7 linked regions of the Homo sapiens genome follow. The protein of the gene in region 5 interacts with the protein of the main gene of each other region in a pairwise test. Each region holds a gene or a part of one and is shown on either strand. Other genes may lie near its edges. The genes, in order: IGFN1, LMNA, ZCCHC14, DMRT3, USP54, PLA2G6 and SEC24A.

Region 1 (3,500 bases), on a different chromosome or scaffold from region 5:
CCTGCTTCTTGGCTTCCTGAGAAGGAGCCCTTTCTCACTCTTTCTTCCCAGCTTTTCCCCAGTGACACACTCAGGGTCTTCCTAGGGTGCCCCACCCACTTCCTAGAGGCTCCATTCACACTGCCAGAGTGTGTGCCACCAGATTCCCACTAGAGAATTCAAAAGCACTGTGCACAGGCAGGAGGTACTACAAATAATCCTGACCCAAAAGTAGGAGCGAGAAGGGGCTTCTTGCTCCTGGGGTGAGTGGGTGGATGCCCATTCTGTTGAAGGGCCACCCAGGAGGAAGAAGGTGGAAGGCCCCATCTCCTTCCCTCCTGCATTCTCCAGGAAAGCTCCGGAAGTCCCACATCCCTGGAGTGAGCATCTGGCAGCTGGTGGAGGAGATCCCTGAAGGCTGCAGCACGCCGGACTTTGAGCAGAAGCCCGTCACCTCGGCTCTGCCAGAGGGTGAGCCCAGAGGGGAGCTGCGGAGGGGAGGCAAGATTCTTGCTCTCCTACCTCCCAGGGGAGAGGGCTGGGGCACCAACCTTCCTGGGGACCCAGGCCCTATATCCATCACTAGGCCATAGCCCATCTCCCTCCTATCCTTGAGGGGGTATGTGCTTACCTGGAACCCTAGAAGTGACAAGAGGCCTGGGGAAAAGAGTGGATAAAGAGAGTGAAGAGACACCATGCTATTCTGGTGTGAGAAATATCTGGGGGGCAGGGATGGAAAAATGCTAAACTGGGGAGCAGGGAGAGGTTGTGGTGTTTCCTGGTCCCTGTCTCCTCACCTCAAAGCCACTGCTGCAGAGAGGCACTGTTAAAACAGTTAATTTGACTCTTCCCAATCCTCGCCTCCAGGCAGCAGCACCTGCTGTGGCTCACAGGCTGGGCTCAGGAAGGCCCTTCTAGAAGGCCACATAAGAAGGTGTCCAAGAAAGTGGTGGGAACAAAGGCTTATTGGGGAAAAAGTGGGAATTGGTGTTCTTTCCCCAACACACACCCTGCAATAAATTTTAGTTCATAGCATCCTGGTAATAAGAAAAAGAATGGTATTTTATTTTTCTAAATCTGGAACAAGGTAATGAGAAATTGGGAAGGGCCCTTGGGCCTTTGGTCTATATTGCTGTCTACTGAGATGTTCCTGGTGGGAGGCTGAGGGATTCCTTGAGGGCGGGCAGTTCCCAGGCCTCCATGACAGGCATGGAGCATGGGGTCTTTTCTGAGGCTGAAGCCTGTGTCTCAGCACCGGATCCTTCGGGCACCAAATAGTCACTCCTTCTCCTAGTTGTGATTCCTCCTCCCCCTAGAGAGTAGGAAGGGAAGCCAGAAAATCTCTTCTTTTTTTTTTTTCTTTTTTTGAGATGGAGTCTCGCTCTGTTGCCCAGGCTGGAGTGCAGTGGCGCAATCTCTGATCACTACAACATCTGCCTCTGGGGTTCAAGTGATTCTCCTGCCTCAGCCTCCCAAGTAGCTGGGATTACAGGCACATGCCACCAAGCCTGGCTACTTTTTGTATTTTTAATAGAGATGGGGTTTCACCATGTTGGCCAGGCTGGTCTCGAACTCCTGATCTCAGGTGATACGACTGCCTTGGCCTCCCAAAGTGCTGGGATTACATGCGTGAGCCCCTGCGCCTGCCCGGAACTCACAAAATCTCATTCCCTTCCTAGTCTTGGCAGAGCCTTCAGACTCCTTGCTCACCCACTCTCAAAGAAAAGCCCCTGTCCCCTAAAGCCCTGCTGGCCTCCCCTTTCACCAGGGCCAGTCCACCTGTCTCTTTCCCTCAAGCAGCCCAAGCTTCTGCAATATAGAAAGAGGAAGCACTGCCTTCTGGGTGCCTGGAATCTGCTGCTTTCCACCTGCGTATTCTGAGTCCTGAGTCAAGGGGACCAAGGCCTGGCATCCTTTTTGGAAGGGGCAGTTGAAATACCTAGATGAGGAAGACGATATAAATTAAAATTTAAATAAAGTATACAGTCACCCTCTCCCAACTTGTCAGTCTCCCTACTCGTCTCTTCCTGCTGCAGGGAAAAATGCTGTCTTTCGGGCTGTGGTCTGTGGGGAGCCCAGGCCCGAGGTGCGTTGGCAGAACTCCAAAGGTGACCTCAGTGATTCCAGCAAGTACAAGATCTCCTCCAGCCCTGGCAGCAAGGAGCACGTGCTGCAGGTAAGAACCGTAGCTCTTCCCCTGACCAGGGTCTACTCGTCTTTTCCCATCCCCTTGAAGGTCTCTTTGGCAGCCTCCAATCCCTAGAGGAGTAAGACATACTCCTCGTTGAGGTTGAATCCATTCAACTCCATCTCGTGACTCAAAGTTGCCTGAGCCAAGAATGGATCTGGCAGGCTTGCAGATACCTCTGCTGATAACCTGGGAGGTGGTGTAGACTGGAGCTTAAGAGCTCAAGCTCTGAAGTCAGACTGCTGGAGTTACAATCCCAGGCCCACCACCTTGGCTTTAGAAAGTCATTTTACTCTTTTTACCTCTGTCTCCTCATTTGTAAAAATGGGATAATAATAGTACCTACTTTAAGGAGTTGTTATGAGTTGTTGTTGAGATGGATCTCACTCTGTCGCCCAGGCTGGAGTGCAATGGCGTGATCTTGGTTCTCTGCAACCTCCACCTCCCAGGTTCAAGCGATTCTCCTGCTTCAGCCTCCCAAGTAGCTGAGATTACAGGCATGCGCCATCACGCCCGACTAATTTTTGTATTTTTAGTAGAGTTGGGGTTTCACCATGTTGGCCAGGCTAGTCTTGAACTCCTGACCAACAATGATCCATCCGCCTCGGCATCCCAAAGTGCTGGGATTACAGACATGAGCCACTGCGCCTGGCCAGGAGTTGTTATGAGGATGAAAGTTTTATGTAAAGTGTCTAGCTAGTGCCTGGCCTATAGTGAGTACTCAATCAATCTTGGCTAATCTGAGCAATATTATAAATACTAACCATGGGATACCTACTATGTGCCAGGCCCTACTATGTCCCAGGGGCTAAATATTTGACATAGATTATATATTTAATTCTAATTATTCACCACTTTTTTGAGGTATTATATTCCCATCTTACAAATGAAGAAACTGAAGTTGAGAGAAGTTAGGTAACTTGCCCAAGGTCCCACAGCTAGTAATACAGGACAGAGACTGTTTTCAGGCCCAGATCCATCTGACCCCAAAAAGCACACTCTTTCTACTTCGCTACATTGCCTCTGATGGCAAAGAATTGATACATCCACCCTCTGTCCCAAACCAGGTTTCTGTTTTGGGGTCTGTCTTTCCTGATAAAGACTGTGAGCTCCATGAGGACAAGGACCATGTCTTACTCACTTTATACCCCCAACACATAGCCGTGTCTAGTAAATGGAGGAAGGGGATGTGGTAGCCCTGTTCCTCTGCCCTTGGCCTCTCTGCAGATCAACAAGCTGACAGGCGAGGACACGGATCTGTACCGCTGCACAGCAGTAAATGCGTACGGAGAGGCCGCTTGCTCAGTGAGACTCACTGTCATCGAAGGTGGGC
Region 2 (3,500 bases), on a different chromosome or scaffold from region 5:
AGCAGTGGTTACTTTGCCGGGTTGGGGGGGAGGTAGGGGCTATCAAACCTCATGATTGGCCGCACACAAAGGTGTGAGTATGTGTATATTTGAGGGTGGGTGGGAGTGGCACTTTCACTAGGCCTCCGTATCACTCTCTGACTGGGGTATCTCCCAGCAAGCGAGACAGAGGCAGACACGCTTCCCAGACTGTCTTACTGGGTCTCTCTGTGTTATTCTCTGCAGTGTCTGTGTGTATCGTGCCATTTTCTATGTTTTGCACCAATCTGCTGTGAGTGTCCTCAGGTGACCTGGGGGCAGGTTTTTAGTGCCTGAGCCTACCCGTCTCCAGGCTTTAGTTTCCCCCTGTAAAAGTATAGGAGTTGGTTCAAGAGAAGGTTCCTCTAGAAGCCTTGAGCCTGTGAACCGTCTAGTCTCCGGGTATTTGTGGGACACACAGAAAAAGCCCCACGACCCAACAGGTAGAACACTGGCTGAAATCAGCAGGGCAGAGCTGAGACAGGCTCAAGTAGGCTGAGGGGTAGGGAGGTTTTGGGTGAATGGGAGGGAGGGACAGAGAGAAGGAGGATATATTGCAGTAGGAGGAGTTGCTGGAACAAAAGGAGGGGTGGTAGGAGTGGCTTGGGGTGGCAGCAGAAGACGCCCTGTCACATGGCGGGAAGTCAGCCTGGGCAGAGGTCTAGGTGTCCAGGAGGGGCTGGGTGTGGTGGCTCACGCCTGTAATCCCAGGACTTTGGGAGGCTGATGCAGGAGGATCACGTGAGGTCAGGAGTTCAAGACCAGCCTGGCCAACATGGCGAAACCCTATCTCTACTAAAAATGCCAAAAATTAGCTGGGTGTGGTGGCAGGCGCCTGTAATCCCAGCTACTCTGGAGGCTGAGGCACAAGAATTGCTTGAACCTGGGAGGTGGAGGTTGCAGGGAGCCGAGATCGCGCCACTCTACTCTAGCCTGGGCAACACAGTGAGACTCTGTCTCAAAAATAATAATAATAGGGGCTGGGCGCGGTGGCTCATGACTGTAATCCCAGCATTTTGGGAGGTGGAGGCGGGTGGATCACCTGAGGTCAGGAGTCCGAGACCAGCCTGGCCAACATGGCAAAACTCCGTCTCTACTAAAAATAGAAAAATTAGCTAGGCATGGTGGTGCAGGCCTGTAATCCAGCTACTCGGGAGGCTGAGAAGCAGGAGAATCACTTGAACCTGGGAGGTGAAGGTTGCAGTGAGATCACCTGGGCGACAGAATGAGACTCCACCTCAAAATAATAATAATAGTAATAATAATAAATGAAAAATTTTAAAATTAAACAATTAAAAATTTTAAATTAAAATTAAACAAATTAGATGCCCAGGAGGATACAGGAGAGCATTTGCCACCAGGCGGACTCCCTGTACCCACCCGGCCACAGGGGGCGATGTTCCTGGGAGACAGGAAATGCCCAGGGGCTGGGAGACCCTCTGCTCTTCTGCTCCCTTCCTGTGTGCTGCCTGGCAATGGGGAACTCTGAGGGCTGGTGAGCAGGGCTGCTGAGGAGTGGGTCTAAGGAGTCCCTGCAGGGCTGGGCCAGCTCCTCCACCTCCCCTTTGTCTTCCCCTCCCACTTGTTATTTTTAGCTACAGTGTCTGTCCCTCTTGCTTCTCCCCCAGATTGGGAGAGGAAACGGAGGCCTCTCCCTCCGGGCCTAGCCTGTTGCCCCCAGCAACCGGGCCCAAACAGGCCTGTGGCCGGCCCTGGCTTCCATATCTGGCATCAGAGTTGGGCTGAGCAGGGTGACTCAGAGGGTGGGTCAGCGCCTGGCCCGGTGCCCACCTAGCCCCTTTGCTGTGCTGGTGCCTTTCTTCCCCAAACAGCCCCAAGGGCCCGGGCCTGCTGCAGCTGGGGAGCCGGACTTCCTTGTCCCACCAGGCACAGCTCTTCAGACCCCTGCCTTGGGTCACATTTGCAAGTGCCAACTCTCATTTCTACCTTATTCTTTTCCTCTCTGTTCCCCTCCCCACCCCCTCTCTTCCCTCTTTCTGAGATCAGATTTGCCAGTGATGGGAAGAGTTAGAAACAGGATGCCCAGCCCTTCTCGCCTCAAGAGGCCACTGGGATGCAGCCACTCCTGTGCTTGGGGAACCTGGAGGATGCAAGGGAAAGGACTGGCACTCTGCTGGCACAGCACCCGGCCTGGGGCAGGACACGGGCGAAGCCAGGGTCTCCCCTGTGAGCACTAGAGGATTTCCCGACCCCTGCCCGGGTATTGTGTGCCTGAGCATGAGTCACCTGAGGGGCCCAGGTTCCCACCCTTCCCAGCTCCTCTGGCCTGCCCCACCCTGTCCTCCCTGCCAACCCAGCACGGGGACGGCACTCAGCGTGTGCTCAGCTTTCCTGATGCCAACCCCCAGTGGAGTGGGCTGCACCACCACCCTGGGACCGAATGCCTGGCTAGGGTCTACTTTGGTCCCTGCTAGGTCTGAGGACCCCTCCTAGGAAGGAAATGGCACTTGGGGGCGGGGGCAGGGAGGAGGGAGGAGAGACACTGGGCTCTACTGTACCCCTAGTCATCTCTTGGGGTGTGCGTGTGGCTCCCTGGCCACAGAGCTCCCAAGGTCTGAGTCATGAGCCCATGGGTGATAGTGGCTTCTTCCCCGCAGATGGGAGCTCCCCGTGCCTAAGAAAACCACAAAGGTTCTTCCTCACTTCCCTCTCTGCTCGTGGTTTTTCTCATCTGCAGGGTGTGTCTTAGTCCTTTAATCTCCTCTCTTTGCAGTGCTAGTCAAAACCTCCACCAGGGAAAGACAAATAACCCCCTTACTGTTTTTTTTTTTTTTTTTTTTTTTTTTTGAGATGGAGTCTCGCTCTGTCACCCATGCTGTAGTGCAGTGGCACAATCTCGGCTCACTGCAACCTCCGCCTCCCAAGTTCAAGTGATCCTCCTACCTCAGCCTCCTCAGTAGCTGGGACTACAGGTGCACACCACCGTACCCAGCTAAATTTTTTTTTTTTTTTTTTGAGATAGAGTCTCACTCTGTCACCCAGGCTGGAGTACAGTGGTACAATCTCAACTCACTACAATCTCCGCCTCCCAGGCTCAAGCAATTCTCGTGTCTCAGCCTCCCAAGTTGCTGGGACTATGGACGTGCACCACCTTGCCCGACTAATTTTTGTATTTTTGATAGAGTCAGAGTTTCACCATGTTGGCAGGCTGGTCTCGAACTCCTGGCCTCAAGTGATCCACCTGCCTTGGCCTCCCAAAGTGCTGGGATTACAGGTGTGAGCCACCACACTCAGCCAGCCCCCTTACTTTCCTTGGAGACCATATACTGTGGCTTGTGCCAAAGTGGTACAGCATGGATTTCCAGCTCCCCTATCTACTTGCTGCGGGACCCTAGATATAGCTTTCTGTGCCTATTTCCTCAATTGCATAGGAATAGCACCTATCGCATAGGGTAGCTGTGAAGATGACGTGAGTTAACATAATATTTAGAGCAGTGCTTGGTACCTAATAAGCTCTATAT
Region 3 (3,500 bases), on a different chromosome or scaffold from region 5:
ATTCAACTGAGTTCTTGCCCGACTGCCACTGCTTCTTCAAGCCCTTCCTCTCAATGCTGTATTCATGGCCACCAAGGTTGACGACAGCAGTCATGCCCTGTGACATGAGATCAGTGCCACCCACCAGCCAGAAAGGTGCTTGGACACTGGTCCCCAGGGCCCCGGCAGCAGCACATTTACGGAACTGGTCGGCCATGTTACTTCGTGTGCCACGTGAGCCAAGACACGATCGAGGGTCCAGAGAAACTGTTTAAGAGACGCCAATTTTATCTGGGAATAGTCTCAACCTTGGACTACAGGATGGAAACAGCAGCCCAGGATTATTTCACAGGACTGCCAAAGCCCAAGACGTGGTGGGACCCACCCTGGAATTCCCTTCCTCACACACTCAGAACCACTCTCAGCTTACTGAGGGCTCCCGAATCCTCCAGAACTAATGGAAATCCCTAGAGGCCAAGTAGAGACCCAGGTCCAGGTGACCGCGCATCCTCCCAGAGCTCCTTGGAGGACCACAGCATTGACCACAGGACCAGCCTGTCCTTGCCAGCTGTGGACGCGCCGGGTGCCTGGTAAGGGCCTCACCTCAGGCCTGAGTCCAGATCCACGTGGTTTCGCTCCACATAAAATGCGTCCGGACCAGCTAAGCAAGGAATGAGTTTCTCCAAGTTCTCTTCAGGATAGAGCTGACATAGCTGGAAGAGAGGACAAGGTAGAGGAGGTGTGTCCAGACCCATCCAACACCAGCAGAATTCTGCTACTGCAGGAAAACCTGGGGCAGGTGCTCCATGGTGCCGCCTGCTGGTCTGATATGATTTACACCTCCCGTCAGAGCTATTCTGGGGCCCACATCCACTTAGGGTGTAGAAAGTCACAAAAGAACATCGCTCTCACAGTTACATCCGGAAAAGCTTGACAATCTGCACAATCACAATGTTCCTTGAGCCCATCTGAGAGTTGCTGGGCCACTAAGTCAACTTAATTTCAAACGGGACCTGCTCCCATGACAAGCCAGGGCACAAGGCCCTGGTGGCTGCCACACCAGCAGGTCTGGAGAGACAGGTTCCGATGGACACACTGCCACAGGCTGACGTGGCCAACAGAAATGCCGGAGCCCCAGGCGGGGCAAGTGGGCCCTTCTTTCCAAGTTCCTTTCCGCAGGAGGAGCCAGAGAGAGCCCCATCGGTGGCACCTGGGGACCGGGCACCAGGCCTAGTGCAATTCCCGGGACCACTCTCTGGATCTGAGGAAAAGCCCTTAAGACGTTGCAGGAGGGACAAAAATTGCTCCTGGCCCCAGAGCCCAAACCAAAGGCCCGGTTTTTAGGAGTGGGGCAGGGACAATACTTCCCTTCCTCTGCCACCAGTCACAAGAAGACCCGCTGCTCCTGGAAGAAGGGGAAAAGCAAAAGCGCTCTGGTGCTGGAGGAGGTCAGCTCCTGCCGGGGAGGGCAAGGCACTGAGGAAGTGCCACCCCGAAGCCCAGGCACACAGGCCTGCCCAGGATCAGGCTGGGCTGCAAGAGTGAAGGCCCTTGCCCCCACAAGCCCAGCACCAGGTCGCAAACAAGCAGCAGCGGTCTACCCCCGAAAAGGGGCCGAGAGGGTAGAGAGTGCCCTGCTGTGTGCCACAGGCCTGCAGGGACGGCTGAAAGCTGGGAGTGAAGCAAAACGGCGGAGAAGACCCTCCAGACTCAGGCAGCAGCTGCCTTCACTGGAGAGGCCCTGAGGGTAACAGAGGCAGCAAGAGAGCCCAGTGCCAGCTTCATCCTGCCCAGATGGCCTCCAGGACCCCACTAAGGGCCCTGGCAGAAGAGGTGTTGACCCTTTCCAGGCATAAATCTCGCTCTCCTCCGGCTCCACGGTCATCTAAACATGTCTGACATTCAGTCAACATTTGCAAGACATACCAAAAAAAAAAGGAATAAAGGGGGAAAAAACTATTGTCAAGAGATAAAGCAATCATTAGAACCAGATTCAGAAATAACTCAGATGTGGGACCTAGTGACAGGGACTTTAAACAGCTATGATGGATGTACTAAAGGACCTAGTGAAAACGACAATATGCACAAACAAGCGGGAACTTTCATGAACACGTTTCAGCAGAGAGATGGAAACTTCATGAACACGTCAAATGGAAAACCTAGGGGCAAAAACACAAAAGAAACCCCTGGCAGCAGAAATGAGGACTTGAGTACATGGACAGGCTCCACAGCAGCCTGGGCAGAACTGAGGGGATCGGCTGGTGTGGAAACGGGCACAGGAACCACCCAGACGTACACACAGAGAAATGCACAAGCATGGGAGAGCCGTGGGGCGGCAGCACCAGGGGTCTGAGGCTCGTGCCGCCAGAGTCCAGGAGAGGGGAGGATGCGGCAGAAGAAATGCTTGAGGAGAAAATGGATAAGAATTTTCCAAAATTAGGCCAGGTGCAGTGGCTCACACCTGTAACACCAGTACTCTGGGAGGCCGAGGAGGACAGATCACCTGAGGTCAGGAGTTCAAGAGCAGCCTGGCCAACATGGTGAAACTGTCTCTACTAAAAATTAAAAAAAAAAAAAAGAGAGAGAGCTGGGCGTGGTGGTGTGCACCTGTGATCCCAGCAACTTGGGAGACTAAGGCAGGAGAATTGCTTGAAGCCGGGAGGTGGAGGTTGCAGTGAGCCAAGATCATACCACTGCACTCCAGTCTGGACAACAGAGTGAGACTCCATCTCAAAGAAAAAAAAAACAAAACAAAACACTGAGACAAAAGCCCAATGAGAGGTCGAAGTTCCAGCCGGCAGGAGTGGAGTCCAGGGAAGCTGTGTTTAACAAAAGGGGAAACTACACACAGAGGCGAGGAGATTTAGTATTTTAAACACTACAGAGGGAAAAGCAGATTCCCGGGGGGGGGTGTGTGTTACCCTCGAAGGCGTGGCACTGTCGTGTTCTTCAATGCCCAAGAGGCCAAAAAGATAAGTGTAATCAGACATCGTCCTCACTCCATGTTCTCCTGCAGGATGAGGCCTTGGCTTTATAATGAAAAGTAAGGCTCTCTTTGGAGACATTTACATATGTTATCCCATTCACAAAGCTGACTGCCTGAGAGGCATCACTTTGGCTGAGACAGTCGTTCACGCTACAGCACAGGCCAGTGGGCCCTAAACACGTGTGCAGTTACAACTGTGTGTACACATGCACACGGAGGCAAAGAGGCATTTATTTAGTAGTGGAACTTTCTGTTCAATGGTATCTGCTGAACCAGATATTTGTAAAGATAAACGTGGGAGGACCACTTGAGCACCAGGAGGTCAAGGCTGCAGTGAGCTGTGATGATGGTACCACCACAACCCAGCCTGGGCGAGAGCAAGATCCAGTCTCTTAAAAAAATAATAATAAAATAAATAAATAAATAAAAACAGATAAAGGTAGAACTAGGTGAAGTCTCTACCCACTCAGCCACCTGAGCATGCCTCTCTCCCCCAGCCTTTGCCAAGGAAACCTGGGGGACTGAAAAGTAACAA
Region 4 (3,500 bases), on a different chromosome or scaffold from region 5:
TCCCAAAGTGCTGGGATTACAGGAGTCAGCCACCACGCCCGGCCAGCTCAACTATTTTTAAAAGAAATATATGAACCAAATAGCTTTGTGTTTTAAAAGGTACATCCCCTGCCCCCACTTTAGATAAGTTTCAAACACTGAAAACATATTAGGAAGTGTTTTCTCAGGTCTGTCAACCAAATTGACTCTTCCACAGTACACTTCAGTCTCCAGAAAAAAAGTGGATCAAACAGCAGAAGGCTAACTGAAAGGGGAATTAGGGAATGAGGTTCTCACTAACATAATGACTCTACCATTACAAAAATGGAGGCTTTTTTTTTTCAAGGTAGCAACAGATATACTGTCCCAATCAACTGAATACTTGATACCAGGATTACAAGTCTGACAATATAAAATTCCACTCTTGTACCTATTTTCCTAAGTTCTGCGGAACAGACGGTAGTGGAATCTTATGTCAGTGCCAGCTTGTTCAGCAATTGTGAACTCTCAGACTGTGAAAGTCACTTTCTCATTTTGTTGTGTTACCCTTTGCCCCTGCTACTGGGACATGCTAGTGCATCATGCACTTCTGGTTACTTGTCAAGGAGTGGTGATAGATTACACCGAATCCTCCATGCTCTCTCCGCAGGTCTCTGTGCCGTCTGGCTATAGCCAAAATATGAGAAAAGCTAACACAATGTCACAGGAATCAAATCTACAAATTCAGCGTAAACCAACCAACCAGCTGAGCTCAGCACTGCTTACACTGTGTTCAAAGGAAAGACAAAGATGATGAAAGAACAAGCAGAGCACACCTGTGAGGCTTATGCACCTGAGCCGCACACAAGGTCCTGCTAAGTAGTGCTGGGTGAGCCAAATCCCCATCAACATGTAAGGCTGTTGGAGTTTCAAAACTAGGCAAAGGAAGACTAGCCTCTAACTTTGCACCAAGAATAACTCCTCACCAAACAATAATTTCTGAAGGGCAGGATATATAGTTCCTGCAATTTTGTGGCGCTATGGTGTCTAGTACTGGTTGTATTATTGCACCTAAACTAAATATATTGTAAATTATTCTATTATAAATACAGACTTTCACAGGTAATTATAGAGGGTGAGTTTTGAGCCCAGTGATAAAGTGTAATTTAATAACAGGTACTTCTTTACATCTCCAGATTTGTTCTTAAATAAACTTTACAAATCATTCTAGTTGGTTTAAAACATAAAGGCCTTTCTAGACATAGAAATGTGAAACTGCCAACTAACAAAATAAAATAGGAAATACTCCTGAAACATTTTACCTTCTTTCTTCTTGAAACTGAAACCCTAATTCCTAGAACATTAAGAGTGTATATCAACTGATAATATTTTTACCCCGGTAGATGGGTATAGAAAGTCAAAGCTATTAAACAGGGAAGAAATCAATTTTATCGAATATGACAAATATTACTGAAAGTGATACAATATGCTGTTTCTATTGCTAAACATGTACATATTTTTAAAATCTTAATATTCTCTCTTCCATTTCATATTTCATGGGGTAGAAACACTTATAGCTATCCCTGAAATAAACTGTGCACTAGGGTAAAGAGGTTTTTAAAAGAAGTAGATATTCAATTAAAAAGAAAAGTTTTTCTACAGATAACAATGCTACCGACTTCAAAATATATATGCCATAAGATGACTACAATACTTTTTTTTCTTTTTTTGCTACAAGACTTTAAAGAGAGAAAATAAACACTCACAAAAGTGCTTTCAATCTAAAATTACAGTTTGAAAATGTAACTTTCTTTAGGGGAGTTTTTCACATAAAAATGCAATTTAGTAAAAAAAAAATGTATTATTTCAAATACTTTGAGAAAGTCTACCACATATGAGAAACAAACATTCTGCTCACGATGCATAAAAGTGAAAAATCTGGCTGGGCGCGGTGGCTCACACCTGTAATCCCAGCACTTTGGGAGGCCGAGGCAGGTGGATCACGAGGTCAGGAGATCAAGACCATCTGGCTAACATGGTGAAACCTCATCTCTACTAAAAATACAAAAAAAAATAGCCGAGCATGGTGGCAGGTGCCTGTAGTCCCAGCTACTCAGGAGGCTGAGGCAGGAGAATGGCGTGAACCCGGGAGGCAGAGCTTGCAGTGAGCTGCAGATCTCACCACTGCACTCCAGCTGCGGCGACAGAATTAGACTGTCTAAATAAAAAAAAAAAAATGTGAAAAATCTTTCTGACTTAGATGTCATAGGTTATATCCATTCTATCCAATTATATCTACGAAAACAAAATAGTTCTTACATACAGAATGAAAACACAGAAAAACTCGAGCAGAGAGGAATATTTCCTAGCTCAAAAGTCACTGGACTCCCCCATCCCTTTTGAAATCATGTCACGCATTTTGAAACATAGATTGTCATATCCTCATCTGTTCACTTGAGCTGTGGGGAACACACCTGTAAATAACAGGTCCTTGATGGGTAGTTTTCAAAGCACATAAATCTTACAACAATGGCAAGGGAGGGAGCCCAGGCAGGATGAGACTTTTACAGGAGACCATTGCCTAATCAGAATTCTAATCGTAGACAAACGCTTCACATTTTCTCTTACCTTCATCTCACACTAGAAGTGATGAATTATTTTAAAAAAATGAATAGTTGAAAATCTAAAGAACACCAGGGAATGATCTCGATCTAAAAACTTTCCTTTTCTTCCTGGGGTGGATTGCCGGGTTGGGGAGGGTTGTGAAAAGTTAAAAAAAAAAAAAAAACTAGCCATGCTTTACTTTTTAAAAAATCATTAACAACACTGAATTAATAACGTATGAAGGAATCAGAGTGGTTCCTTGACACTATATTTTGGGGGAATATTGCTATAGACAGGACTGGGCTGAAGGAAGTATGGTTTGCAACTGTGGACCTCACATATTTTGTAAAAAATTAGTTTTGATCTCTTTCTTGACTCAGAAGGGAATACCTTCCAAGAAGCAGAGGGGAAATTACCTACAAATCTACATGTTTATTTGGTACCTTCCAAAATGCACCTGTCTAACTCATCCATCTATTTAACAAATGCCCCTAAATGCCTTACTATGCTCTCATGTACTGTGCTGGGTAAGATCATACAGAGATGATCAAAGCATTGCCTCTTGACCACTGAGAGGCATACAGTTTACTAACTAATCTTTTGCAAAATTCCAAGTAAGCTGCAGTTGGTTATATTTCACAGTGAAATACAGCAAATAATTCCAAGGATAGCAGCTGGGCAGACCATGGTGTCTTCACAGGAGGAAATATTGTTTTAAATGCTTACATATAAAGATTATGGGTGCTAGAGATATATACTGAACTAAACAAAGTAATAATCAGTGGGAAAAACGTGGAACACTAATCCCAGCTCTGTAAAATTTATGTCTGCCTAGTTGTTGTAATCAAGAGATTGGAGATTTTGTAAAGAATTGATGTGCCGACTCTTAAGTTTTTCATTATTATTATTGTTACTTGGTACTTGATTGTGCCTTTTAT
Region 5 (3,500 bases):
GGAAAGCCCAAGCCATTAGAGATCAACAAACTTAAATAATATCAGTGGCTAGGTTTGTAGGTAATCATACCTTTGGAGAATTTCACTTCCTTGCCCAAGTTGAGTGTTCATCACAGTAGAGGTCAGGGTACAAAGTACCAGTGCATTGAAGGTTGTCCACTAGGTCAGTTCAGGAAAAATGTAAAAACAGATTTTAAATACATGGTACAAAAATAAAAAGGTATAAAAGCATATATGGTGAAAACCAAGTCTGTCTTCTACCAGCCCTTCAGATTCAGTTTCCCTCCTAAGAGGTACTCATTTTTCCAATTTTTAAAAATCAGCCGAGGCCAGGCGTGGTGGCTCATGCCTGTAATCCCAGCACTTTGGGAGGCCAAGGATGGTGGATCACCTGAGGTCAGGAGTTCGAGACCAGCCTGGCCAACATGGCAAAAATATAAAAATTAGCCAGGCATGGTGGGGGGTGCTTGTAGTCCTAGCTACTCGGGAGGCTGAGGCAGGAGAATCGCTTGAATCCGGGTGGCAGAGGTTGCAGTGAGCTGAGATTGAGCCACTGCACTCCAGCCTGGGTAACAGAGCAAGACTCTGTCTCAAAAACAAAACAAAACAAACAAAAAAACCCAGCCGAATTTATAGTAAGTTTCATTCAATTTATCGTTCATAAATTCCTAAGCAATTCTGATCAGGCTGCCATTCTTTTTTGGAAAAGGTGGACTCTCCTGCCTAGCATTTGTTCTCATGTACTTTCAATTCATTTAATGGCAAATTGTTCTTTTCCTAGGAGAGTTGGCTTCCTTTCTTCTGACTTCTGTATCATTCATTGATTCATTCTTTTAAATAAATGCTTATTGATTCTGTACAAGATTCCTAGCACAAAAATAAACAAATAAATAAGTGCTTATTGAGTGTGTTCTAGGTATTGTGCTAGGTGCTGGAGCTACAATGGTGAGTTAGATATAGTCCCTGCTTTTATGGAGCTTACAGTCTACAGTGAGGGACGGATAAATAAACAAACAGTTATAATGTGTTAAGGATTTGATCCTATGGGAACATAATAGAAGGGATATTTAAATCAGGCTTGAGGTATCATGGAAGGCTTCCTGGAGGAAGCAAAAAGAATATAGCAAGTAAAAGGGACCTGAGCAAATATTAACTGAATTAAAAGAAGCTTATTTAGTATGGCAGGATTAGAAAGTCTGGCAAGGGGAGATGATGGAGAGTGTTGACAAGAGAGGATACAAAGAATATTATGGACCACAGACAGCCCTGTATGTCACAGTAAGTAGTTTGGAAGGATAGAGATAAGTCGATGTATTTGAGACCCAGTTAGGAAGTAAACATCAGTGGGAGTTGGTGCCTGCCTGGATGTTGGGAGTGGGGATAAAGGATGATACTCAAGTTTTATGGGTAGATAATGATATATTTGAGGGAAGATATGCATTCAGTTTTACATATATTAAGCTTGAGTGGAGGTATCTGGCAGGCTTTTGGAATGAGATATATAAGCTGCAAATTGAAATCTGGGAATCATAGCCATTGAAAAAGAGGAAAAGACTTGCAGAAAGAGAAGAGGAGCCAGGACATATCCCTAAAGAGCATCAGATTTAAGGTGGTTCTTCTGAAGAACCCTAAAAGGAGACTGAGAAAAAAAGATTAGAGAGACTGAAGGGAAACCAAGGATGTGTGGTACCATAGTCACCAAGGGGAGAGTGTTTCAAGAAGAAAGGAATAGCCGGGCGCGGTGGCTCACGCCTGTAATCCCAGCACTTTGGGAGGCTGAGGCGGGCAGATCATAAGGTCAGGAGATTGAGACCATCCTGGCTAACACAGTGAAATGCCGTCTCTACTAAAAATACAAAAAAATTAGCTGGGCGCGGTGGCGGGTGCCTGTAGTCCCAGCTACTTGGGAAGCTGAGGCAGGAGAATGGTGTGAACCCAGGAGGCAGAGCTTGCAGTGAGTGAGCCGAGATTGCGCCACTGCACTCCAGCCTGGGTGACAGAGCGAGACTCCGTCTCAAAAAAAAAAAGAAGAAAGGAATAATTAGCTGTGTCACATGCTGAGAGGACTGGCACCTGGTCCTTAGGCAGTATGATAAATGCTTACTTTGTGCCATTTTGTAGTAGGTGCTGTGAGCATACACTGATGAAACAACACAAATTCTGCCCTTGAGTAGCTTGCAGTCTCGTAAAGGAAATTAGACATACTGGCATATAGATTATTTTATTTAATGTATTATTACTAAGTGCCCACATTGTTCTAGGCACTGTTCAAGGTGCTGCGGATACAGAAGTAAAAAGAAATAGGGGAGAAGACAATAAACAAATAAATGACATAATGCCAGACAATGATAAGTATGATAAAGAATAATAAGGCAAGAGAATAAAGAGTAAAGAGGTAATAGTGGTTTTTTTGAGGGCTATTCCTGATAGTAGGGTAGTGAGGGAAATCAGCTCTAAGGAAGTAACTTTTGATTAGAGATCTCAGTGATATGAAAGTATGAGCCATCAGAAGAATATTCTTGGTAACAGAAACAGGAAGTATAAAGACTCTGAGGTAGCAATGAGCTTGGTGTGTTTGAGGAATATTAAAGTTAGAGTGTAAAAGCTCCAGGAATGATAGGAAATAAAGTGAGGAGCAGCAGGGCCATATCACACAGGACCTTGTAGGCCACAGTAAGGAGGAGTGGATGGGAGATAGGAAAAGCAGATTGAAGGCTGTTGCAGTAGTCCAGGTGAATTTAAATATAAAACCCATAGGTAGAAATGATAGTCCTTGGCAAGTAATGGAATTGTGGATGGGAAGTGGGAAATCAAGGTCATTGCCAATGTTTGAATATGGGTGATTTAGGAAAATGAGGTGCCAGGAGGAGGAGTTTGGAAGGATTTTGGTTCAATTTTGGATATGTTAGTGTTTCAGATGTTAAAGGGGAATATTTCTGGGTATTTATCATAAAAGTAGATAACTAATAGGGAGTAGAGCAGGACATTAGCATCAGTAAATACAAACTTGACAGGCAAAAGAGGAAGCTGTGGAATGTGTAGCAGTGACAGGAGAGAAGATGGGGTAGAGTTCTTGATTCTACATTTAAACATATATAGTTTCATTCCCAGTACTTAGAATAAGTGAAGGATTTTTTTTTCTCATTCTCTCAGGCTTTCTGAATTTCTCATATTTCGTTTTTATTTTTAAATTTCTATCTCAATCTCTCTAATTCTACTGTTAGCATTAAGGAGTTTGCTAAAGACCTGAATGATAGGGTTGGGAAGGTGAGGGATATGAGGAAGACTGGTTAAGGGATAAGGATCTGAAGTTTGCAGTTTCTTAGAGGGCTAGCAGGGAGAGCAACTGAGTAAATTGGGTCCTGTTCCAGAACAAGGCATGTAGGCATGTTTGTGCTCTGGTTCCCTCCATTTCCCTTTGCTTGCCTCACTGTGTTTACCCAACTACATCCTGCTTTGTGTTAATCCTCATCTCTATGTTTTTTTGTCTTGTCTCATTA
Region 6 (3,500 bases), on a different chromosome or scaffold from region 5:
TGGGCATGGAGGGGTGTCAGGCTGGGTTGGGAACCGTGCAGGCTGGAAGGGCACTCTGGTGCTCTGAGCATTCAGAGGGGGCAGCTGGGCCTTGAAGGATGAGCAGGGGCTCCAGCAGGAACTGGAGAGCGCATTCCAGGGAGGACGCAAGTGCAGGCCCCTTTCACTACAGAAAAGCAGTTTTCACACAGACCTTCCAAAGGGGAGGAGAGGGGACTGCCTGGGCCTGGCAGCTGCGGCAGGTAGCAGCAATCAGAGGGCAGGGACCGCTCCTCCCGTGCCTGAGACCTGCCCAGGGTCCTTCAGGGAATTCGTAGCTGAGGAGGAACCAGATTTTTGGGACTGAGTTCTCCCTCACCACCCGCTCTGAGCCACCCTCTTGGTCCCTTGTCCTCTACTGCACTTCTTCCGGGGCTTGGCTCCTCGTCATGAGAGGAGCTTCCCTGGGCATGGCGAGGGGCGTGACTGACATAGCAGCCCTGGACAAGTGGCTCCAGGTGACCTGTGTTCACGTTGATCACAGCACTAACCACGGCCCCTCCTCTCAGCACCTTCCCCTCTCGAGCCGTCCAGTCCCAGTGAAAATGCTCACCGTTCATGGGTGGGCTGAGCAAGCCCCTGATCTCTGCCTTCCTCCGTGTTCTGATCTGCTTCATCTGCTGTGAAGGCCTCTCGCCATTTCCCCCGCTGGCAAACTCCTGTTCTTCCTGGAAAGTTCAGCTAAAAAGTCATCCCCTTTAGGGGTCCTTCCCTCAGGGGACCGTGCACTTGGCGAGACAGGGACTGGTCTTGGGTCTCTCTGTTGACTGTTTTATGAACCCAGGTAGTCACTTCCAGGGAACTCATCAGAGATGCTACCATTGGCTCCAATCTCCCTCTGTTCCCACTCGAGGTTTTTTGTTTCTTCGTTTGTTTTTCTTTCTTTCTTTTTTTTTGAGACAGAGTCTCGCTCTCGCCCAGGCTGGAGTGCAGTGACATGATCTCGGCTCACTGCAAGCTCCGCCTCCCGGGTTCACGCCATTCTCCTGCCTCAGCCTCCCGAATAGCTGGGACTACAGGCACCCGCCACCACGCCCAGCTAATTTTTTTTGTATTTTTAGTAGAGACGGGGTTTCACCATGTTAGCCAGGATGGTCTCAATCTCCTGATTTCGTGATCCGCCCGCCTTAACCTCCCAAAGTGCTGGGATTACAGGCGTGAGCCACTGCGCCCAGCCCGTTTGTTTTTGTTTTTTGGTGGACATCAACTTTAATTTGCCCTTTGTTTTGTTTTGTTTTTGAGGCAGGGTCTTGCTCTGTCTCCCAGGCTGGAGTGCAGTAGTGCAATCTTGGCTCACTGCAGTCTCGACCTCAAGAGGATCAAGCAATCCTCTTGCCTTAGCCTCCCGAGTAGCTGGGACCACAGGCGCACACCACCATGCCCAGCTAATTTTATTTTATATTTTGTAGAGACAGGGTTTTGCCATGTTCCCCAGGCTGGTCTCAAATTCCTGGGCTCAAGCAATCCGTCTGCCTCAGCCTCCCAAAATGCTGGAATTACAGGCACGAGCCACTGTGCCCGGCCTTAATTTGCCCTTTGAACATGTACAATTCAGGGCCTCTCTGGGCCTCAGTTTCTTGATCTCTGAGATGGGAAGATGGGATAATAATACTTGTTCCTCCCGTCCTTCAGCTCCTCCAGGGGACCCTCACACCAGCACACTCTCTGTCAGTCTTCCCTCAATGAACCCAGCAGGCAAGCTTGGTTTTGACAGAGGATGGGTGAGCAGAGATAAGGAAAACGGCCAGAAATATCTGGCTTCCCTCAGCAGGGGCACCAAAATTGGTACCTGGAAATTGCCTGGCTTGGACAGGCAGAATTGTCACTGTCAACCCCCACCACCAAAGGTCTTGGGTCTTTGTCTTTCTGCTTGTGGTGTTTGAGAGAGCTGCTTGACACAGCCGAGGTGCGGTCTGTGTCAGGTGACCTGGGCATCCTGGGGGTGCAGGGAGAAGCCCAGGTAAGGAGGAGGAGGGGCCGGTCATCAGTGGGGAAAAGTGATTGTCTACCCCACGGGAAGGTCAAGGGTAGGACGCTGTGAGAAGCCAGGGGGAGAGATGAAGTGAGGCATGATGCGGGGGGCCCTCATCCACCATCCCCCTCTTGCAGCTGTGCTGGGAAGAGCCTAGGCTCCAGGGTCCAAGGTGGCAGGGACAGAAGGAAGCACGTGTGAGCACTTTCTCCCTGCTGGCCCGCCTTCCTGGTTGGCAATGCCGTGAGTGTTCCAGGATGTGGCCCCGTGGCTGTCATTTCCTTTCTTCCACCTAGTGATAACAATGGCCACTGTTTGTGTGCCCACAGTCGGCCTGTGTCCCAGACACCTTCCCTCCATTGCGTCATCTCGTCCTCCTGCCTACCCTGAAGGCTGGATGCCAGCCAAGCCTGTCGTTTCTGTGGCCATGCTGTCGTGGGTGTGTGGGGGGCATCCCCTAGCCCCAGGCTCTGGTGGGGGGTACACAGGCTGGGCCATTGACGAAGGGGTGTGTGGAATCTTTCTTTGATTTCACTGCACCCCTGGTGACTTTCTCCCTCAATCTGAGGCTCATGGGTGCTGGATGCTCTTGACTCTCTGCCCTTCCTGGGCGCACCCCTCCGCGTCCCTGTGGGCCCGTCCTCGGGGTAGCCTCTCTGCGCTCTTCCAGGCCAGGCCTGAGTCCCACAGGTCCCCATCTTCCCGGCTGCAGCCCCCAGAGGCTCAGCCTATACTGCTACTTCCTTTGAAAACTATAATCGCTTTACATAGCATCTGGAAAATAGGGAAAAGGAAAAAACAAAAGCCCATAAACCCAGCACCCTCATCTACTCAATGGCATGTTTTCTGTCAGTCTATCTTGGTTTGTTTTCTATCAGGCTTTGTTTTTTCTATGCATAATATTTACTCAGTTAAATTTTTGTTTTGACAAACTTTCTGTGAGCCAAGCTTGTGGACGGAGATGAAAAGACGAGCAGCTGCCTTTGAGAAACTCAGACTCTGGGCCAGCCCATCTGGGTGCCAGCTTTCACTGCTCCACCCACTAGCTGGGTGACCCTGGGCCCGTGACTTTACCCCTCTGTTCTTTGGTGTTCTCATATGTAAAATGAGGATAATAATAGTAACCAGTTCATAGAGTGGTTGTCAGACAGAATGATTAATGTACGTAAAGCTTTCAGGATGGTGCCAGCAAGATGCACAGGAGTGTTTGGTAGGAGGATGACGAAGCTTACCGTCTGGCAGGAGGGGCAGTTGTAACATGCTGGGCTGTGATAGTACAGATGTGTTTAAAGTGAGGGAGAGCCCAGAGCAAGGAGAGAGAACCTGGCATCTGGTGATGGTGTATCAAGAACATTTTAGGCCAGACACGGTGACTCACACCTGTAATCCCAGCACTTTGAGAGGCTGAGGCAGGCAGATCGCTTGAACCCGGGCGTTCGAGACCAGCCTGAGCAACGTGGTAAGACCCTGTCTTTATAATTTTTTTTTT
Region 7 (3,312 bases), on a different chromosome or scaffold from region 5:
ATTCATTTATTCACTTGTTGCTGTATATGCAACAGGAATTCATAATATGATAATGCAGATTCTGTTCTGTCTTCTATCATGTTTTGAAGGAAGTTTGCTTTCATTGGACTCTCATCCCTTAGGAATAAAAGGCAAAAAAATTTAGATAAAATGTAGCAGTAAAATAGACTTGTCAGAAGGCTTTTGATTTCCTCATAACCCTAATAACATTTACTATATAAACAGTTACTTCTAGAGGCTTTCTCTGAGAATACTTGGTTGATTATGTAAATTTCAAGTTGTTTAAGGGAAAAGCTTATGGTGGAATTAAGAGAAATAGTTGATCCAGAAATTCCATTTCTGAATATATATCCAAAGGAATTGAAATCAGTATATCAAAGAGATGTCTGCACTTCCATGATCACTGCAGCATTAATCACAATAGCCACGATATGGAAATAACTGAATGGATTTTTCAAATGTGGTATATATATACAATGGAATTCTACCGAGCCTTTTTTTTTTTTTTGAGATGGAGTTTTACTCTTGTTGCCCAGGCTGGAGTGCAATGGCACGATCCTGGCTCACCACAACCTCCACCTCCTGGGTTCAAGCTATTCTCCTGCCTCAGCCTCCCGAGTAGCTGGGATTACAGGCATGTGCCACCATGCCAGGCTAATTTTGTATTTTTAGTAGAGACGGGGTTTCTCCATGTTGGTCAGGCTGGTCTCGAACTCCCAACCTCAGGTGATCTGCCCGCCTCGACCTCTCAAAGTGCTGGGATTACAGGCATGAGCCACCGCGCCCGGCGACTTCAGCCTTTAAAAAACAGGAAATTCTGTCATTTGTGACATTATGCTGAGTGAAATAAACCAGGCACAGAGAGACAAACACCACACGATCTTACTTATGTGTGGAACCTAAAAAAGTTGAACTCATATAAGTAGAAAGTAGAATTATGGTTATTAGAGGCTAGGAGGCAGGAAGTGGCTATGGAGAAGGAAAGAAGAAATGTTAGTCAAAGGGTACAAAATTTCAGTTAGGATGAATGGATTCTGGTGATCTATTACACAGTATGATGACTATGGTTAATAATGATGTATTGTATATTTTAAAATAGGCAAAATAATGGATTTTAAATGTTCTCACCACAAGGAAACAATAATTGGCTGAGAAGATGAATATGTTAATTAGCCGAATTTGATCATTCCACAATGTATACATGTATCAATAAATTAGTGTACCCCATAAATATATACACTTATTATTAGTCAATTAAAAATGAAAAAAGTTCTGTATTTCCAATCATTGGATATAAGGTATGATTTACTGCTATTTATTGAGAAGAACTCTTTTTCTTTCTTCTTTTTTTTTGCTATACTCTTGTCAGGTCCTGGCAAGGCCAAACAAATTGTTTTACTACTAGCAAATGGAAAATTCAACTTACCTTATTACATAAAGTATTGGGAAAAATGGTCTCTGCTCTCTAAGCCAAGAGATGAAAGCTATTATTCTGGCAGATTCTGGTGTATCAAGTTCTGGAAGGTCTGTCTGTTAACCAAAACCAACAATATCCAATTACTTTAATTACATATCTAATGTATGGTCTATGGTACTTTTCAAATTTTTATTTTTTTAATTACATTTTTTTTCTTTTTTGAGACAAGGCCTCTGTTGACAGGCTGGAGTGCAGTGGCATAATCATGGCTCACTGCAGTCTCAACCTCCAGGCTCCGGTGATCCTCCCACCATAGCCTTCTGAATAGTTGGGACTACAGATGCGTGCCACCATGCCTGGCTAATTTTTATATTTCTTGTAGAGATGGGTTTTGCCATGTTGCCCAGGCTGATTTCGAACTCCTGGGCTCAGGCGATACACCTGCCTCGGCCTCCCGAAGTGCTGGGATTACAGGAGTGAGCCACAGTGCCCGGTCTACTTCTCAAATTTAACTTATTTTTTGAGACAAGGTCTTGCTCTGTTGCCCAGGCTGAAGTGCACTGGTGTGATCATGGCTCACTGTAACCTCCACTGCCTCCTGAGGCTCAAGTGATTCTCTCACCTCAGCCCCACCAAGTAGCTGGAATAAGAGGCGTGTGCCACCTGCCAGGTAATTTTTGTATTTTTAGTAGAGACGAGTATCTCACCACGTTGCTCAGGCTGGTCTTGAACTCCTGGGCTTAAGCAATCTGCCCACCTCGGCCTCCCAAAGTTCTGGGATAACAGGTGTGAGCCACCATGCCTGGTCTTGAATTTTAACATGTATATGAATCACCTGATCATCTTCTTGAACTACAGATAATGATTTAGGAGGTCTGGGGCAGGGTTGTGGTCCTGAGATTTTGCTTTCCTAAAAAATTCCTGCAGTGATGCCAGTGCAACTTGACTTGGGAACACAATTTTCTACGAATATTCTAGAACAGGAGTAGGCAAACTTCTTAAAGGCCCATATAGTAAGTACTTTAGGCTTGCAGATCATTTGGTCTCTGCTGCAACTACTTAACTTTGCCATTGTTTTTTATTTTTTGAGACAGAGTTTCGCTCTTGTTGCCCAGGCTGGAGTGCAATGGCGTGATATTGGCTCACTGCAACCTCTGCCTCCCAGATTCAAGCGATTCGCCTGCCAGAGATTCTCCTGCCTCAGCCTCCAGAGTAGCTGGGAGAGTAGTTGGGATTACAGGTGTGCGCCACCACACCCGGCTAATTTTGTATTTTTAGTAGAGATGGGGGTTTCTCCATGTTGGCCAGGCTGGTCTCGAACTCCTGACCTCAGGTCATTCGCCCACCTCGCCTTGAGACGGGGGTTTCTCCATGTTGGGCAGGCTGGTCTTGAACTCCCGACCTCAGGTGATTCGCCAGCCTCGGCCTCCCAAAGCGCTGAGATTACAGGTGTGAGCCACCACGCCCGGGCAACCTTGCCATTGTTACACCAAAGTAGCCATAAACAATACATAAGTGAACAGGCATGGATGTTCCAATAAAACCTTATTTACAAAAACAAGTAGCAGGTACCCCTTGGGCATAGTTTCTAAGCCCTCATCTAAAAAAACCTCTTAGTTCTTCCCTTCATTTTAGCATGACGTCAAGAATTAATTGATTCGTTCAGTTATTATTAAAAATATAACAATTTCTTACTCATTACCTAAAACGCTTAGTCATCCAGCCCAGTAGTTCTGTTTAAGGCCTGAAAGCCAGTGCTTATCCTAGCTATAATCCTGACACAGCAGTCTTTTATTTATTTATTTTTTGAGACAGGTTCTTGCTCTGTTGCCCAGGCGGGAGTGCAGCAGCATAATCACTGCTCACTTCAGCCTCAACCTCCCAGGTCCTAGCAC

Evidence for each region.
Region 1: the proteins of USP54 (region 5) and IGFN1 interact in binary tests that used the Homo sapiens proteins (3 or more experiments, as listed by UniProt).
Region 2: the proteins of USP54 (region 5) and LMNA interact in binary tests that used the Homo sapiens proteins (3 or more experiments, as listed by UniProt).
Region 3: the proteins of USP54 (region 5) and ZCCHC14 interact in binary tests that used the Homo sapiens proteins (3 or more experiments, as listed by UniProt).
Region 4: the proteins of USP54 (region 5) and DMRT3 interact in binary tests that used the Homo sapiens proteins (3 or more experiments, as listed by UniProt).
Region 6: the proteins of USP54 (region 5) and PLA2G6 interact in binary tests that used the Homo sapiens proteins (3 or more experiments, as listed by UniProt).
Region 7: the proteins of USP54 (region 5) and SEC24A interact in binary tests that used the Homo sapiens proteins (3 or more experiments, as listed by UniProt).

Annotation. Positions count from the first base shown.
Region 1 is NC_000001.11:201,193,824-201,197,323, forward strand, and holds part of IGFN1 (immunoglobulin-like and fibronectin type III domain-containing protein 1), read left to right. Parts: intron 1-330; coding exon 331-450; intron 451-2,015; coding exon 2,016-2,155; intron 2,156-3,394; coding exon 3,395-3,494; intron 3,495-3,500.
Region 2 is NC_000001.11:156,124,711-156,128,210, forward strand, and holds part of LMNA (lamin), read left to right. Parts: intron 1-1,459; exon of another isoform or gene 1,460-1,493; coding exon of another isoform or gene 1,494-1,513; intron 1,514-1,844; exon of another isoform or gene 1,845-1,941; intron 1,942-2,025; exon of another isoform or gene 2,026-2,092; coding exon of another isoform or gene 2,093-2,205; exon of another isoform or gene 2,206-2,239; intron 2,240-3,500.
Region 3 is NC_000016.10:87,420,025-87,423,524, forward strand, and holds part of ZCCHC14 (zinc finger CCHC domain-containing protein 14), read right to left. Parts: intron 693-3,500; coding exon 583-692; intron 1-582.
Region 4 is NC_000009.12:983,155-986,654, reverse strand, and holds part of DMRT3 (doublesex- and mab-3-related transcription factor 3), read right to left. Parts: intron 1-3,500. UniProt on the Homo sapiens protein: Probable transcription factor that plays a role in configuring the spinal circuits controlling stride in vertebrates.
Region 5 is NC_000010.11:73,500,843-73,504,342, reverse strand, and holds part of USP54 (ubiquitin carboxyl-terminal hydrolase 54), read left to right. Parts: intron 1-70; exon of another isoform or gene 71-159; intron 160-3,500.
Region 6 is NC_000022.11:38,171,831-38,175,330, reverse strand, and holds part of PLA2G6 (85/88 kDa calcium-independent phospholipase A2), read left to right. Parts: intron 1-3,500. UniProt on the Homo sapiens protein: Calcium-independent phospholipase involved in phospholipid remodeling with implications in cellular membrane homeostasis, mitochondrial integrity and signal transduction.
Region 7 is NC_000005.10:134,721,785-134,725,096, reverse strand, and holds part of SEC24A (protein transport protein Sec24A), read right to left. Parts: intron 1,531-3,312; coding exon 1,427-1,530; intron 118-1,426; coding exon 3-117; 3' UTR 1-2. UniProt on the Homo sapiens protein: Component of the coat protein complex II (COPII) which promotes the formation of transport vesicles from the endoplasmic reticulum (ER).